Linked DNA regions of Homo sapiens: region 1 is linked to region 2. A link means that fine-mapping ties the variant in region 2 to the expression of a gene that starts in the linked region. Tissue or cell type: whole blood. Region 2 holds a variant in brackets; the other region holds the start of a gene. All regions are shown on one strand. Distances are from middle to middle.

Region 1 (8,000 bases), 24 kb after region 2:
GGAAACTACCCCGGAGTCCAGCGAGTCCTCAGGGCTACCTCCTCCCCTCCCAGCCCCGGCGTCCGCACCTCGCGGCGGGGCCGCGCGTCAGTGGACCAAGCACGAGAGGAAGCGCCGACCTCCAGCTCCCTGCGCTCTGCCCCGCCGGCTCAGGGAAAGCGGGCGCCACACGCTCACAGGCAGGGCGCAGGCGTCCCCGGAGCTGCGCATGCGCACACGGGCGCAGCCGCTGACAGGCTCTCAGCGCGTGCGCGGAAGGCGGAGCCCGCCGGGGGTCACGTGTTCATCGAGACGGCCCCCGCCTCCGCAGCCCTGGATCCTTCCGCTCCCGCCCAAGCACTGACAAGGTTTCGCGGCAAAGGAGCTTTATTGCTGCGGCGGCAGAACGAGCTCTGCGAAGGGCGAGGGGGCGGCGAATGGCGCGCGGTCGGAGAGTACGAGCGCCTCCTGCAGGGCGCGGCTCTGCGGGCCGCTGAGCGCGGGGCCGTCCCGGTGCACGCGGAGCCAGGGGGTCCCTGCAGAGCGAGGGGCTGTTAGAGGCCGCGCGGCCGGAGCTGGGCGGGGGTGCGGGGCCAGCAGGGCGGGGGCGGCGCTCACCACGGCGCAGCCTCTGACCCACGTCGACCAGCAGCTCTGCGCCCACCCCCAGGCGGAGCGGCTCCCCAGCGCGGCTGCGCCCGGCCCCGAGCTCGTGCAGCACCAGCGCCAGCGGCAGCGCCCGGACCAGCTCCACGGTGCCTGCGGGGAGAGGGGCTGAGAGGCGCGGGCTCGGGAAGGGGCGGGGCCTCGGGAAGGGAAGGGGATGGCGGAGGCGGAAGGACGGGGACTCCCCCGACGCTCACCATCTGCGGGCGCCAGCAGCTCCTCCTGCTCCCGGGCGCGAGGCAGCAGCTGCCGGCGTTCTGCGGGACTTCCCGAGCACAGGGCTCGGGCCAGACCGGGATCCACGCCCTGCGCCGCCAGCATCCGCTCGAAGCGGCCAAGGGCCGAGCCGTCGTCCAGCGCCGCGGCCACCCGGGCAGCGCCCTGGGCCTGAGTCCCCGCGTGTCCGCTGAGCCAGAGCAGGGCGCCCCCTGCGGGCGGGGACGGGTCTTAGGCGCGGCCGGGTCGGGGCGGCCCCAGCGGGAAGCACCCCCCGCCGCCTCCGCTCCCCTACACCCCGTCCCCCTCACCGAGCGTGGTGACCAGGTCCCTTAAGTCTGGCGGGCCTGCGCCGTCCATGCAGAGCAGCGCCTCCTCCACCTCCAGGGCGTGGCCCACGCAGCGACCCAGGGGCTTGTCCATGGCGGTCAGCGCTGCCGCGACCCGAAGCCCTAGGCTGGCTCCCACGCCAACCTGCGGAGAGGAGGCTCAGCGTGGACCCCCCATGGCGGGGCCTTCTGCAGCCGGTTCTTGGTCGAACTCCAGCCCCTGCTGCACCCTGGGTTGCCAGCCCCCCAGCATGAAGTCAGGGAAGGATTGGGGTGGGGAAGAGACACGAGTGAAGTGCGACACCTCGCCATGGGGCCAGGAGGAACTTGTACTTGGTCTGGGGCAGGAACGCCACAGAGGGCTTCCCCAGGTCCAGGCCGGGCCAGCCTTGACCTCTAAAGTCACAGCAGGTTAGGAAGCCGTGAAGGAGGGAGGGACTTCGGGCAGAAGAGGGTGGGACTGGGGTTAGGCAGGACTGCTGAGTGGAGGGAGGCAGTGGGGACGGGAGGGGTGAAGGGTAGGCTGGGCCCGCATCAAGACGCTTGCCCAGGGAAAGGCCACACCGCTCACCAGCGTCTTTGCCAGCTCCCGGGCCTGCTCCTGGTTGGGGAAGACGGCGGCCCCTCCGAACTTAACGTCCACCACCAGAGCGGACAGCCCCTCCACGAGTTTCTTACTGAGAATGGAGGCTTTGGGGGAGGCAGAGGAGGTTGGAGACAATGGAGAACCTGGAGCTTCTTGGGAGAGTTCGGGGATGCCGACTTTGGGGTCAGGGGCCCTGAGCATTGAGGGTCAAGTCCCTTATTATGGGGGTGGCAGCACCTGGTGGGTTGAGTATCAGGCCACCCCACATGGTGGTGGTCAGGCATCTTGTGATGGGGGTAGGGGGGCACACGGTCAGGTGACGGGTAACTCCTAACGAGAGGCCCTTGACTTGAGTTTGGAGGTCAGGAGCCTGTGAACATGCAGAAGCAGGCCATGGAGTCAGGTCACCTGTGATGAGTGGCAGGCTGTCCACGGTGGCTGTCACATCTCTGGCTGCATATAGGATTCCGTCCGCAGGAACCAGCTGCTCACTCTGACCCACGATACAGCAGCCCGCCTGGTCCAGCAGCACTTGCATCTGGTCAGACATCCCCTGTTCTCAGTGACTTATGGTAAATGACTTAGCAGCTTTTTTTTTTTTTTTTTTTTTTTCTGTGAAGAGTCTTCCTCTGTTGCCCAGGCTGGAGTGCAGTTGGCACAATTTCGGCTCATTGTGACCTCTGCCTCCTGGGCTTAAGTGATCCTCCCACCTCAGCTTCCCAGTAGCTGGGACTACAGGTGCGCACCACCACACGCGGCTTTTTTTTTTCTTCTTTTTTTTGTAGAGATCAAGTTTCACTATATTACCCAGGCTGATCTCCAACTGGGCTCCTCTGCCTCCCAGAGTGCTGGGACAGGGTCTCACTCTGTTGCCCAGGCTGGAGTGCAGTGGCATCGTCCCGGCTCACTGCAGCCTAGACCTCCCAGGCTCAAGTGATCCTCCTGCCTCAGCCTCCTGAGTAGCTGGAACCACATGCGTGCACCACCACACGCAGCGAACTATTTTGTAGAGATGGGGTTTTGCCGTGTTATCCAGGCTGGTTTTGAACTCCTGGGTTCAAGGGATCTGCCCTCTTCGGCCTCCCCAAGTGCTAGGACTACAGGTGTGAGCCACCGTGCCCCGCCAGCCATCTGTGATTTTGACCAACTTCCCATTTTATGATCCTAATCAAAGTTCCACTGATGATTTCGGCCCAGGCCCAGTGACTCATGAGTAACCTTGACCAGTGTTCTCATTAGTGACCCTAATGATCCACCAGTGATCTTTTAGTGATTCTGGCCAGGGTCTCCATCATCAACCTGGATTAATGACTGATCCGTGGCGCCCCGTACCTGCTCTGGGCTCTGGATGACATTGAATCCAGGAATAGACTCCAGCTTATCCAAGGTGCCTCCTGTGTGCCCCAGACCACGTCCGCTGATCATTGGCACCTGGTGGTCAGGGATGCTGAGTACCCTGCACAGTACCCCTCCCCCACCTCTGTGCATCCCTTCACCTTCCCTGGCTAGGAGTGCAGCTGGATTTGGAAAGTATTTAAGCAGCTATAGGGGTGCCCAGCTGGTGAGGGAATGGAAAGGAAGTTTTCTTGGTTGAGAAGTGTCAGTAGGGGAGGAGGTTGGTACCTGTCCTTGGGGAAACAAGGCTTGGGGCAGAGGGAGGAAAGTCCTCAGCTCCTCCCTTGGGGGAGCTGTCTGGGGACCCAAGGGGAAAGGGGTCTGAATTCCATCAGTGGATCTTTTTCCTGCTCCAAGGGGCCTGGTCTGGAGCCAGAGGGGCCCCAAGCGCTGTGCTGGGGAACGGGGTGGGGAGAACTGTGCTGGGGAGCAGGGTGGGGAGAAGCCTTGGTAGGGTCTTGGAGGCTTTGGGCCAGGCTTGAGGTTGGGAGCTGCCTGTGGATGGACTGGTTGCTGCATGTGCGGTATAGGCTCCCGTCTGGAAAGGAGGTGGTTTCTAACCTTGCAGCCACATGCCGCCAGGGCAGGTGCGAGGACCAGGCTGACCTTGTCACCCACACCCCCTGTGGAATGCTTGTCCACAAGCTGCTGGCGCCAGGCCTCTGGCCACTCCAGCTGCTGTCCCGACTGAGCCAGGGCCTGGGTCAGCACCGAGGTCTCCTCCAGATCCATGCCCCGAAGTCGGATGGCCATCAGCATGGCCCCTGGTATGTGGGGGTACGCGTGAGGGTGGCAGCCCACAGCGGTGGGGCACCCTGGGGCCGGTGCTGGTAGTGGGGCACCGTCGCACCCCCAGGGACCCAAAGTCTCTCGGGCTGACCTCCCAGTCGGGGTCAGGAACGCCCAACCCTCCCCACGCACCGATCTGTGCGCCCTGCGCGCTCCCATTCACCACAGCGGCCACGAAGCCCCTGATGTCCGCTTCGCTCAGGCGGCCTCCGTCTCGCTTCATGCGGATCAGCTCCGGGAGCTGCTTGGGCTCTGGCGAAGGGTCGGGAAGTCCCTGGCTCCCTTCCCCGGAGAAGTCACCAGGCGCGGGTGGGGCCCCGGTTCCCGGGGTCATCAAGGCTGCCATCGCTCCGGGCCTGCGGGGATGCCTGACACGTCCGGGGTCTGCGGCCTCCCGGCGTCGGTGTCTGAGCCACGTGCTCCTGTCCCGACCCCTTTCCCGTGTCTCTCCGGTGTCCGCCCCTCGGTCCCGTGTCTGTGTCGCCCTCGTCCGTGTCTGCCTCCCGCTTCCCCGCCTCGCGACTTGAGCCCCGCCCGTACCTGCTTAGGGCGCTGCCCTCGCCCGCTTGCTCCGGATCCCAGCCCAGGTACCCGGCCTCGCCCGCGGGTCGGGACCGTAGGGTTCAGGGTTCGCGCACAGCGGTCCACTGCCGGCGGCGGGGCGGCGGCGCCCCAGGACGGCAGGCGGGTGGGGCCGCCTGGAGGGCGGAGCTCGGCAGTCGCCGCCCCCGGGAAGCCTTGCACGCCGCGCCCCGGCCAATCCCCCGGTGCCCCCGGACACGCGGAACTTCCGGGCCGTCGGGGCCCGGGGCCGTCGGCGGGGGTGATCCCTGGCCGGTCCCGCCCGGCGTGGGTCTCGGGCGTCTGTGGCTCCCGAGAGTCCCCCTCCCGCCCTCGGTGGGGTCTCGACGTTCGGACGCGGCGCAGCGCTGGGGTCCCGGCCTCGCCCGACGCTCGGGCCCCGCCCCGCTGGGTTCGGAGTTGGGACACGGCCCCAGCCGTGGCTCCACCCCAGGCCTTGCGCCAGGACGCGCAGAGAGAGAGAGAGAGAGGCGGACACGATGCGGACTCGCAGACTTTAAGCAAACACGTGTGGGGCCGCTCCCGCCTGGCGGGTCAGTTGTCCGCGTCGGTCACCAGCGGGGCCAGGTAGTCCGAGTGCCGGATCCCGAAACTCCAGCCGCGGGGCTTCCGGTGCTGCGGGCCCGGAGACACCGCTGACCTCGCGGGGCCGGCATCCTCTCCGCGCCGGGACCCCTGGACCCCCGGGGACTCTGATCCCATCACTCCGACCTCAGGCCCTCCCCACTCTCCTGACTCTGACCCTTGACCCTGGGCTCCAGGCCACCTGATCCACGTTGTAGGCCGCGGGCCCTGGCTTCCGAGTGTTGTCTTGGGGGAGCGAAGTCCGCGCCAGAATCGTGAACTGGGGGGCCCGGGACTTGTAGACCCCTGGACTCACGACCTGATAGGCGCAGGGGCCCGGGGTCTGCGAGAGGGCAGAGGGTGCTGGCTGCCGCCTCCACTGCCGCGGACCAGGGACCCCCTGCGTCCGCCCCGGCCCCTCCCCCACCTTGCTGAGGTCCTCGAAGAAACTGCCAGCCGCTCTGCGGCCGTAGATGGAGCAAGTTGGGGCGGAGACTTTGCCGATGACGCGCGGACCCAAGAGCGAGGGCACCGTATAGGCCGCGGGACCTGGGGAGGAGGCAGGGCTCGGGGGTAGTGGGTCTCCGCGGACAGGCGCAGGGTGGTCCCAGCTCCCGGAGGGCGGTCCCCGGTCTCGAGTGGGAAGGCCCACAGTTCTGGGATGGGCCGTTCTGACCTCACCTGGGCTCTGCTGTTCCGCCTGGACACCCCAGTTTCGGGGAGCAATGGTGTGCCGAGGCGCACTGGGGTACGTCGCGTTCCCCGCTCGCTCCGGGAAGTACCTGCCTGCGGGGCGGATCAAGGGTGTGGGGGGCTAGAACTGCGTGGGAGCCTGGTGGGTACCCGAGATGGGGTCCTGGGACTAGTGGGGAGTCTGAGCCACGATTTATCAAAGCCCCGTGGGGTTCGGGGTTTGGGATTTGAGATCCGGATATGGGGGTACCGAATATGCGGTGTTAGGGTATCCGAGGGGGACTCGGGGTTCAGGTCGGGGGTTCCCAGGTGGGCCTCCCTGGAGGCAGTTCGGCGTTGGGGTGGCCAGGGGCCCGGGGGTCCTGACCAGGTCCCGGAGTGAGGAAGGGCGCTGAGCGGCGTGGGCGGCCGTAGATGGAGTAGGCGGGGGCGCCGTCGGTGCCGCGCACGGTCATGCGAGCGGGCACCAGGTGGCCTGGCCCGGGGCCGCACGTCGTCTGCTGCGTGGGGAAGCGCGCGCCGAAGGTGAAGGCGGGGGCGCGCGGCCGCGACGGGTCATGCAGGGCGTAGCCTGGGAGCATCCGAGTTAGCGTCTGGCCGGGCCCAGCCCCAAGCCCCATCTGCAACACGGACCCTCCCCCGGCACAGACCCCCTCTCCCCTCTAGCAGGCACGGTTCAGCCCCGAGCGCAGGCCTCCCTGGTCTCTTCCCCTTCCCTCCCCCAGGCGCCGTCCCACCCCTCAATCCCGGGGCCTGCCCCTTCTACCGGTGTTGGGCGGCAGCTTGTATTTGGGCCCGGGGCCTCCGTAGTGCGCCGCGATGGGGCCGCGGGGCCGGTGTGGCCGCCAAAGGCCCACCCAGGCGTCCGAGCCCATAGCGCGGGTGGGGGGCGCTTACGGCTCGCAGCACCTGCGGACAGAAGGCGGTGGCCGCGGCCCCTGCACCGCAAATTCTTGGGGAGCGCACTTTCCCACTACCCTGGGATCAGCGCGGGGCGGGGCGGGGCCTGGACCGTATCCCTGGCGCCAGCAAAACAAACGCGAGCTTCCTTCCCGGCTGTGTGGAGCTTGGGGCCGGGAGCGGATCCAGGGCCATCACCCGGACTCCAGGCGCATTAGGCAGGGACGTGAACTCGCGGGGGCCAAGTCTAGACCCAGACTTGGTGAAGGGAATCACCTGGGGGTGGGGTGGGGGCAGGAGATTTTCGTGCTGTTGGGAAAGGGTGCCCCGGGAAGGGCCTGCGTGGGGGACCCGGTGCCCCGAGGTGCACTGACCTGTTGTGGTAGCTCCTAGCGTGGGAAAACAAAGCGACGTGGCTGGACATCCCCGCTCCGCCCCGCCCACCTCCCAGACCCCATTGTGGCCCTTTCCCGCTTCCTGGCAACCGCACTGACTGCCTGCCCCCCCAACCTGGGTCCGCCTCCCCCTTCCCCACCACCCAGTGCCGCCGCTGGGCCTCTGTGTGGATTCTGTGGCACGGGTGGGATAGTAGCCTGGGCCACCCAGAACGCTGGCCTCACCCTTACCCAAGTTTCAGTATACCCATTCTGGAATAGGACAAATCTGCAGACAAAAGCAAGGATGGGAATAAAGGAACTGAATAATGCAAAGCACACACTCCATTTAATTATGTGTAGAGAGAGGACTTATCTATTTAAGTCCATGAAATATTCGCAAAAAAAATCATGTATTGGGCCACAAAATAATCACACAAATTGAAAAAAAGATGTGACACATGATTTGATTACAATCAAATACAATTCTAGGCAAACAAAATGTAAAAAAAAGAAGAAGAAAACTCAGCCTGGGCAATACAGTGAGACCCATCTCGACAAAAAACTTTAAAAATTAGCTGGGTGTGATGATGTACATCTGTATTCCCAGCTATGGGGTCGGTGGCTGAGTCGGCAGGATCTGTTGAGTCTGGGAGTTGGATCCTGCAGTGAGCAGTGATCCCACCACTAGACTCCGGCCTGGGTGACAGAGTGAGACCTTGTCTTAAAAAAAGAAAAAAAAAGGGAGAGAGAGAACAGGAAGCAGGAGCAAACAAATATTTTGAAATTGACAAATCTTTAAAAAAAAACCCTGGATCAAAACTTGTCAGAAATAATCTGGTTACAAACTGTAGCAGGAAGAGCCGCAGACAAAACTCCTCAGACACCAGGTTAAAGAAGGAAGGGATTTATTCGGCCGGGGGCATC
Region 2 (8,000 bases):
ACGGGTGAATTGTGTAGCACGTGGCTTACCAAGAGAGCTGCTACACAAAACAAAACACAGAACGCATTCATCAAGTGAGCTTGAAAGCTTAGGAACATCAGGCCGGGCGCGGTGGCTCACACCTGTAATCCCAGCACTTTGGGAGGCCGAGGCAGGCGGATCACGAGGTCAGGAGATCGAGACCATCCTGGCTAACATGGTGAAACCCCGTCTCTACTAAAAAAAAAATACAAAAAATTAGCCAGGTGTGGTGGCGGGCGCCTGTAGTCCCAGCTACTCAGAGAGGCTGAGGCAGGAGAATGGCGCGAACCCGGGAAGTGGAGCTTGCAGTGAGCCGAGATCCTGCCACTGCACTTCAGACTGGGTGACAGAGCGAGACTCCGTCTCAAAAAAAAAAAAACTCAGGAACATCAGCCTGGGCAACAAGGGGAGTGTGGGTGGTGATGGCAGCCTGAGGCAGGAGAATCATTTGAGCTCAGGAGTCTGAGACTGCAGTGAGCCACAACTGCACCACTGTGCTCCAGCCTGGGCAACAGAGTGAGACCCTGTCTAGAAAGCCAAGAAGCCTAGGAACAGGTTTTTTAGTTTTAAACATATTACTTTTTTTTTTTGAGATGGAGTCTCACTCTGTTGTCTAGGCTGAAGTGCAGTGGCATGATCTCGGCTCCCTGCAACCTCTGCCTCCCAGGTTCAAGCGATTTTCCTGCCTCAGCCTGTGGAGTAGCTGGCATTACAGGCACCCGACACCATGCCCAGCTAATTTTTGTATTTTTAGTAGAGATTGGGTTTCACCATGTTGGCCAGGCTGGTCTCGAACTCCTGACCTCAGGTGATCCACCCACCTCGGCCACTCAAAGTGCTGGGATTACAGCCATGAGCCACAGCGCCCAGCCTATTATTAAGCCAAGGCTGACTTCTCGATTGTTTATTCCATGTATAGGAGCCCCTTGAAGACATCTGAGAGTTCACGCCACAGGCTGTGTTTGAGCACAGGGCTCTGCCTGGGTGGGCCAGATGGAGGTCAGTGACATGAGGGAGCTGGGTACATTGGGAGCTGCCCAGGGGTCTGGCAGGAGACCAGGAGGCAGGGGCTGTACCAAGAGGACGGGCCAGAGGCAGAGGAAGCTGTGCTGTGAGTTTCCAGGGTGGGCAGTGACCTCTGATTGATAACCTGACCCCAAATGGAAACCTGGACGGTGCCCTGACTGCTGTCTCTGCTGCTGTTCTCTTCCCAGGATGGAGGCCAGGGGCATCAGATGCACCTTCCCTCCTCCGTCCCAACCCAGGGCCTCCAGCTACCCTCCCCCTGGCCTCACTCTGCAGAGGAGCCTCTTCTAACCTGCCCACCTCATCTCTCCTTCTCCCCTTGCCCACTCTGGCCCTTCCGTCCTTTCCTGAGGCCAAGAAGTGGGAGCAGGAGGGAAGTGAGGGACCGGCTCCACCACCGACCTTGGAGTGTGGAGCTGACAGGTCCACCGGGCTGTGCCAGGCCTGAGGCTCCTCTGTGATCAGGCAGTGGGCAACACCAAGCCAGGCCTCTTCAGAGAGAATGCTGAGGACGGGGCAGGAGGGTGCCCAGGGAGCCACGCCGTGGCGGAGCCTGACTGTGCTCTGGGCGGCCCACTGCCTGGGGCAGGGGAGACAATCCCATCCTCATGCCTCCTGGGAAAGCAGCACCAGGCACACAGCCAAGCACAAAAGACGCCTTTATTGGTGCCCAGATCTAAAGGGCAGGATGGGCTGGTGTGAAGATGACGTGGAAGATGACAGTGCTTCCCCTCTTCCCCTGGGAGTCAGCCTCTTCCCCTCTGGCACGGGGCCTAGGGTTGGGGGCTCTAGACTCAGACCCCCACAGCCCAGGGCAGGGGAAGGGTCTTGAGCTTGGTCGTGTTTTCCTCCTGGGCCAATCACAGAGGCAATAGTGGGAGTCCTGGGGAGGGGCATGGCTGGCGTGGGGGTGGGGCCTGGAGCCCTCAATGCAGCACCCTGCAAACCCCAGGGGCAGCCCCCCAACCTGTGCCTGGCCCTGCAGGGTCAGCTAAGGCACAGTGGCTGGGTCCTGTCCTGCCGGAGGCCAGAGCACTCCCGGCGACCTGGCCCTCTCAGGACGTGCAGCTGGGAGAACACAGCTACTTCTTTCGCCGGGTGGTCCTCGAACTACTGGAGCAGGGGTTGGGGGCTGCGGTGGCCTGTTCGGAGGCAGCTCCGGAGTCTTTCTGGGAGGCTGGCCTGCGCTTCTCCCCGCTGACTGGTGCCAGCGGGGAGGACCGGAGAGAACAGGGTGCTAGCAGGGCTTGCACAAATCTGACAGCCCCCACGGCCATGAGGAGCCCCCAGAGCAGGGCGGGGGCCTCCAGGGGAGACAGCTGAGAGCGAGTCCAGTGGAGGGCCTGGGCCAGGGTGCTGTTGGCGCTGCGGGTGCGAGGTGGGCTTTTCTCCTGTGGGAGGGAGGGAGGGAGGGAGGTTGGGGAAGTGCTTACTGGGTTTACCCCGGGAGGCTGGGGTCACCCCTGCCACCTCCCCCAGCCTGGCTGACACCCCCTTACCTGTAGTCCAAACTGCCTGAGCAGCGTCTCCAGCGTGGGGTCCCCCAGGGACACGGATGGGAAGAACTCCTCCACCCACTGGCGCCGCCACCACTGGCTGCAGCAGGACCCGATGTTCAGAAGCTGGAGGCACCCCGGGCTCCATACCCCATCGCCAGTGCCCAGCCTTACCCCTGCTCCTCAGCTCCTCACGCTCCACATCCCCCCCTGGTGCCCGGCCTTACCCCTGCACCCCGGGCTCCACACCCCACCCGGTGCCCGGCCTTACCCCTGCACCCCGGGCTCCACACCCCCCCCAGTGCCCGGCCTTACCCCTGCACCCCAGGCTCCACACCCCACCCCGGTGCCCGGCCTTACCCCTGCACCCCGGGCTCCACACCCCCCCCAGTGCCCGGCCTTACCCCTGCACCCCGGGCTCCACACCCCCCCCCGGTGCCCGGCCTTACCCCTGCACCCCGGGCTCCACACCCCCCGGTGCCCGGCCTTACCCCTGCACCCCGGGCTCCACACCCCACCCGGTGCCCAGCCTTACCCCTGCTCCCCAGGCTGGGAGAACCAGTACTTGTAGCGCTGGGCTCGGACGTAGGTGGGCGGCTGCTTGTGGAAGGGATACCTGGCCACTTGGCTCTGGACAAGGCGGATCACTGCAGCGAGAGGCATCAGCGTGGCCCCCACAGTACCCGCCCTGCCCCTCCCCTCCCCACCCCGCTCCACCCCAGCCCACTCCACACCCCCCAAGCCCGCTCCGCACCTGGCTCCTTGCCCTGCAGCAGGCGCAAGACCAGGCTTGTGAACCACGGGCTGTGCGTGTGTGGGCCCAGGGCTGCAAACCACATCTGCCAGTCCAGGCGTGGCTGGTGGGGCACCACAACCGGGGGCGGCCGGCTCAGGTTCCCAGGCTTGTACATGAACTCGATCTCCTGCCAGGCAGGCCGAGGTCAGCTGGGCCCGCTGACCTGGGCCCCACCACCCTGCCCGCCCTGGGAGGGCTCACCGTCCAGTGGTGGCCGTCGTAACTGCCCTCCAGCACCACCTCAGGCCGTCCACCAAGCCCAGTCATGCGGCGGAAGAGGCCGTAGGAGTTGGCCAGCTGTAGGTGCTCCACGGCACCAAACAGGCGGTGGGCCCCGGTCCAGAGGCGCCCGTGGGTCCCGGGCTCCACGTAGGAGTACGGCACCTGGAGACAGGTGGGAGGTTCTCAGGGCTGCCCTGCCCCCAGCCCATCCCCCAGCCCTGCAGCGCTACCCACCAGGCTAATCAGGAACAAGGCCACGGTCGCAGTGCCCACAAGGGACAGTTGGACTACAGCACTGAGCTTCCGTAGCCAGCCCCGCACCTGGGTCCACCTGTGGGCAAGGACCCAAGGTCGTCAGGCCGGCCCTGCACACCTGTGCCCCCTCCCTGCTTCCTGGGCCATGTACCTCCACAGGGCACTCAGCAGCTCCCAGACCAGGGAGGCCACACCCAGCCACACAGTGGGCAGCGTCAGTGTCTTCAGCCACTGAGAAAACTGGTGGAAGGTGAAAGCTGGTGGAGGAGGGGGGTGTGAGGACTGGTCCGCCCCTGCCCTCTGGCCCCCCCAGGTCGGCACTCACTGGTTCTGGAGTGGATGGTGCGCTGCTGCCAGTCAACCTCCAGGCCAAAGTAGTGCACAGTGCCATAGGCCAGAAGCCCGTAGACGGCTAGTTCCAGCAGCAGCGACAGGGTGGCCAGCAGGGCCTTGGGCCAGGCTGTGGGGCAGGACAGTCATGGGTCAGCAGAGGGTCCCCAGCCAGGGGGCTGGGGTGCAGCTAGAGTGGGAGTCCTGTGGGGGTGTTGGAGGGGAGAACCCCTGGGAGGGCAGGGGGCTGGACAAGTGACACGCACAGGTGGCCGTCTTCTTGCGGCTGCCGTGGCCAGGCTCAGCAGCCAGGTGCTGGTCGTCCA[G/A]CAGCGCAGTGGTAAGCACCAGCGTCATCAGGTTGAAGAAGTTGTAGTTGCCGGTGATGATAATCAGGACCTGCAGCAGCACCTGGGGGCGGCCCGCTCTCAGTGCTCCCGGAGACTGACGCCTGGCCCCGTGGCAGGCACCCACCTCCACCCTGCAGGGTGCATCCCTCTGCTACAAGGCCTTCCCAACAGCGGTTGCCAGCTGTCCCCGGGAGCCACGCTGTCCCCAACAGGGCACGCTGAGCAGCGCTGAAGGCCGAGCCCTGTCTGCCTCTCTCTGACAGCTGCGGCCCTCACCCACCTGCGAGTAGAAAGCAGCCAAGCGCAGGCGTCGAATGGGGGCGAAGAACAGGGGCGGCACAGCGATCTCAATTAGGAAGGTGGCCACCACGCTGAGCTTGTGCAGCCAGACCGGCAGGTGGTGTGCGAACCAGGCGGCGGGCGTGGGCAGGCACTGGGTCTCGTAGTGGTAGGTGAGGGCTGCAGGCGAGGGCAGGAGTCAGGGCTGGCCGAGCCCCCAGACTACCCCAGGTCCAGACCGGGCCCCTCACCAGTGAGCCCCCACCACGCAGGGCAGCGGCTGGTCAGCTTGACCACGCCTGAGGCGAACATGAGGCGGAACAGCAGCCATCGCACCAGCCAGAAGGGGAGGTCTTCGTGGGGCAGGGCCCCTGCCTGCCTGCCCTGGGGGGCCTCCTTGCGGTGGGAGGCTGGCCTCAGCGGGGCCACCAGCACGGCCAGGAAGCCAGTCTCTAGCAGCAGGGAGTCCCTATGGGGAGAGCAAATAGCACCAAGAGCCCCTCCCCACACAGCTGCTTCCCTCGGAAAGTCCTCCCAGGAAGGGCAGAGCCCTCCCCCACCCCCTACCCAGCCTCCCACAGCCCCAGGCCCAGCCGTCACTCACCACTGGAAATAAAGGAACACCTGGCCCACCTGCGGAGAGAGGGGCTGTCAGGGAGCGGGTGTGTCTGTGGACTCAGGTAAGGTAGAGGCAGGGGTGGGTGGTGGGGGTTGGAGATAGAGTGAGCTGGTCACAGGTCCCACTTGCCTGGCAGGCTGACAGGTAGGCGGCCCAAAGCAGCAAGTAGATGACAGGGTGGCGCAGTGGGCTCAGCAGCAGGGCTCCCAGGGCCACTAGTGCACCCAGCAGGCTCAGCAGCTCCAGGCCCTGGGCCGTGTCCAGCCCCAGTCTCGGCGCTTCCCACAGCAGCGTCGGGGTCTCCCACAGCTGCTGCCAGCGCCCCTTGCCCTGAGGCCGCAGCGTCCTCCTTGCAGGTAGGATGCCCTCGGGGCCATACAGGCCTGTGGGAGGGCATGTCATGGCCAGGCCCTGGACAGCCCTTGCAGACTAGACTACCTCTGAGTCAGGGCCTGCAGATCCCCCAGCCTAGGTCAGAGCATGCGGATACCTCCATCCCTAGGTCAGAGTCTGCAGTCCCTCCAGAGCCCGTCCCCCAGGTCGGGACCTGTCAAAACCCCGTCCCAGGGCTAGAGGCCTGCTCAACTACCTGAGTCAGGGCCTCCCACCCAGCAGAGCCCACTGCCCTCTTCCAGGTCTCAGCCCGATCTCCTACCTGTCCCACCAGGTCTGGGAGGAAGCCTCTCTCCCACCTCTCTCAGAGTTCTGTCCCCCACCCCAGGTCAGAGTCCAGAGCCTTACGGGAAATGGATCACCGCACACCTTCCTACCCCCACAGCGGCCTGCAGGACACGAACCGCCGCCCCCTACCCCACGCCAAGGCCTGGCCCTCACTCCCAACCCCGGACTGCGTGAGTGCCGGGCACAGAGAAAAGAGGACATAGGGTCCCGCGCCGAGGCTGGGGGTGTCCCACCCTGGGTGCCTTCACCTGGGATTTGCGTGTAGAGGGAAGCGAAAGCAAACATGAAGACGGCCGCCACGCCCTGGAGGAAGAGCTGCCGCGGGAGCCGGGAGCCCGCCATGTCCGCTACGCGGCCCGCTAGAGCAGGGCCCGCCCTCCGCGTCCGCCCGCCCGCGGCAGCCCCAGGCCCCGCCTCCTCACCGCCCCGCCCGCCCAATCCGTGGCAGCCCCAAGCCCCGCCTCCTCGGCCCGCCCGCCCGCCCGCGGCAGTCCCAGGCCCCGCCTCCTCACCGCCCCGCCCGCCCAACCCGTGGCAGCCCCAAGCCCCGCCTCCTCGGCCCGTCCGCCCGCCCGCGGCTGCCCCAGGCCCCGCCTCCTCACCGCCCCGCCCCCCCAACCCGTGGCAGCCCCCAAGCCCCGCCTCCTCGGCCCGCTCGCCCGCGGCAGCTCCAGGCCCCGCCCCACCCCGCCCCGCCCGACCCACGGCGGCCCCAAAAGCCCTCCCGTCCAAACTGGTGGCAGCCCAAAGCTCCGCCCACCCCCCCCTCCCGGAGGCTTCGACCCCGCCCCGCGACTCTTCCGGTGAGCTCCCGCTGCGCGGCGCCGGGGTTCGCCTCTCTGGCTTTTGCCCACGTTACGTCATAGACATGCGCGCGACGCCGCGCCTACGCATTTTCCTGGGCGGGAACAGCAAAATGGCGCCAGAACTAGTGGCGGGCTGAGGACGCCGTACCCCTCGGAAGGCAGCCCTGCGGTCCCTTTGCCGCCCGTTCCCTCCCGGACATGGAGGACGTGGAGGCGCGCTTCGCCCACCTCTTGCAGCCCATCCGCGACCTCACCAAGAACTGGGAGGTGGACGTGGCGGCCCAGCTGGGCGAGTATCTGGAGGAGGTAAGGGCGGCGGGGGAGTGACGCGGGGTGGGCCGGCGGGTGGGGCTGCGGGGCGGGGGCTCCGGGCCCGGGGCTGTGGGCGCCCCACCGTCTCCACGCCTATGGCTATCTGGCGCTCTGGCCGCGCAGGTCCTCGGGCTCCCTGCTTCTTTTCAAACTCCATCTCTGCCTCCCCAAATCATCCCTTGTTGGATTAGCGTGGACCTGTCATTGCAGGTTTCTACCCGTCAGCGAGCCGTGAATGATTGAGTGGGTGGTGACCAGCCGTTTCTCTAACGTAGTGGAATAGACTAGAAAGCATTATTGCTTTTATTGCAGTTATTGCGAGCATGCTTGTGTGTTTGAGAGGTCTGGATCACGATGTCAGAGGAATTTTTTATCTTGGATTTTCAAACCAATTTCAAGCTATTGCCATGCTCTATCCTGTTAGCGATTAGTGTTTCTTCCATGTTTGACAGCCCTGTCTAGACCTGTGTTAAGCTGTCTGCTCCATATTTGCGCTTCATTTTTACTCCTCAGCCCAGCTCAGTCTGGCGTCCACGACACTTAAATGTTTCTTGTCTTGATCAGCAGTGATCTCCATTCTACCAAATCCAAGGGACATAAGTCAGCATTTGTTGGACTGGCCACTCCTTTCTTTTTGAAACATGGTGGTAGGATTTTTTTTCCCTATTTCATTGCCTGATTTTTCTTTTCTATCCAGTCTCTAAGTGTTGAGTTCCTCAGGATGGGGCCTAGGTCATCTTCTGATGCATTTACCCTGAAGTGTCATTTATTTCTATGATTTTAAATATTGCCTGTATTAGGACAACTACC

Evidence for each region. PIP is the estimated chance that this variant, and not a neighbour inherited with it, causes the effect.
Region 1: it holds the start of TYMP, and the variant in region 2 is fine-mapped to the expression of TYMP in whole blood (TOPMed, PIP above 0.99).

The regions. Positions count from the first base shown.
Region 1 is chr22:50,525,404-50,533,403 of GRCh38, forward strand. It overlaps TYMP (thymidine phosphorylase), which reads right to left and starts at 4,609. Exons shown (of 10, transcript NM_001953.5): 1 at 4,501-4,609; 2 at 4,093-4,316; 3 at 3,733-3,935; 4 at 3,109-3,207; 5 at 2,185-2,314; 6 at 1,762-1,880; 7 at 1,173-1,335; 8 at 843-1,073; 9 at 598-738; 10 at 349-515. The coding sequence starts at 4,306. The coding sequence ends at 367. It overlaps SCO2 (synthesis of cytochrome C oxidase 2), which reads right to left and starts at 195. Exons shown (of 2, transcript NM_005138.3): 1 at 69-195. CIMAP1B (ciliary microtubule associated protein 1B) reads right to left here and starts at 7,095. Exons shown (of 7, transcript NM_001014440.4): 1 at 7,074-7,095; 2 at 6,566-6,708; 3 at 6,167-6,370; 4 at 5,788-5,892; 5 at 5,534-5,655; 6 at 5,309-5,449; 7 at 5,023-5,157. The coding sequence starts at 6,674. The coding sequence ends at 5,077.
Region 2 is chr22:50,501,262-50,509,261 of GRCh38, forward strand. It overlaps LMF2 (lipase maturation factor 2), which reads right to left and starts at 6,441. Exons shown (of 14, transcript NM_033200.3): 1 at 6,321-6,441; 2 at 5,521-5,774; 3 at 5,377-5,405; 4 at 5,024-5,241; 5 at 4,774-4,952; 6 at 4,413-4,554; 7 at 4,142-4,276; 8 at 3,968-4,073; 9 at 3,796-3,892; 10 at 3,541-3,723; 11 at 3,298-3,466; 12 at 3,079-3,190; 13 at 2,547-2,643; 14 at 1,688-2,438. The coding sequence starts at 6,414. The coding sequence ends at 2,130. It overlaps NCAPH2 (non-SMC condensin II complex subunit H2), which reads left to right and starts at 6,963. Exons shown (of 20, transcript NM_152299.4): 1 at 6,963-7,184. The coding sequence starts at 7,077. The variant G/A (reference allele first, on the strand shown) is at 4,473.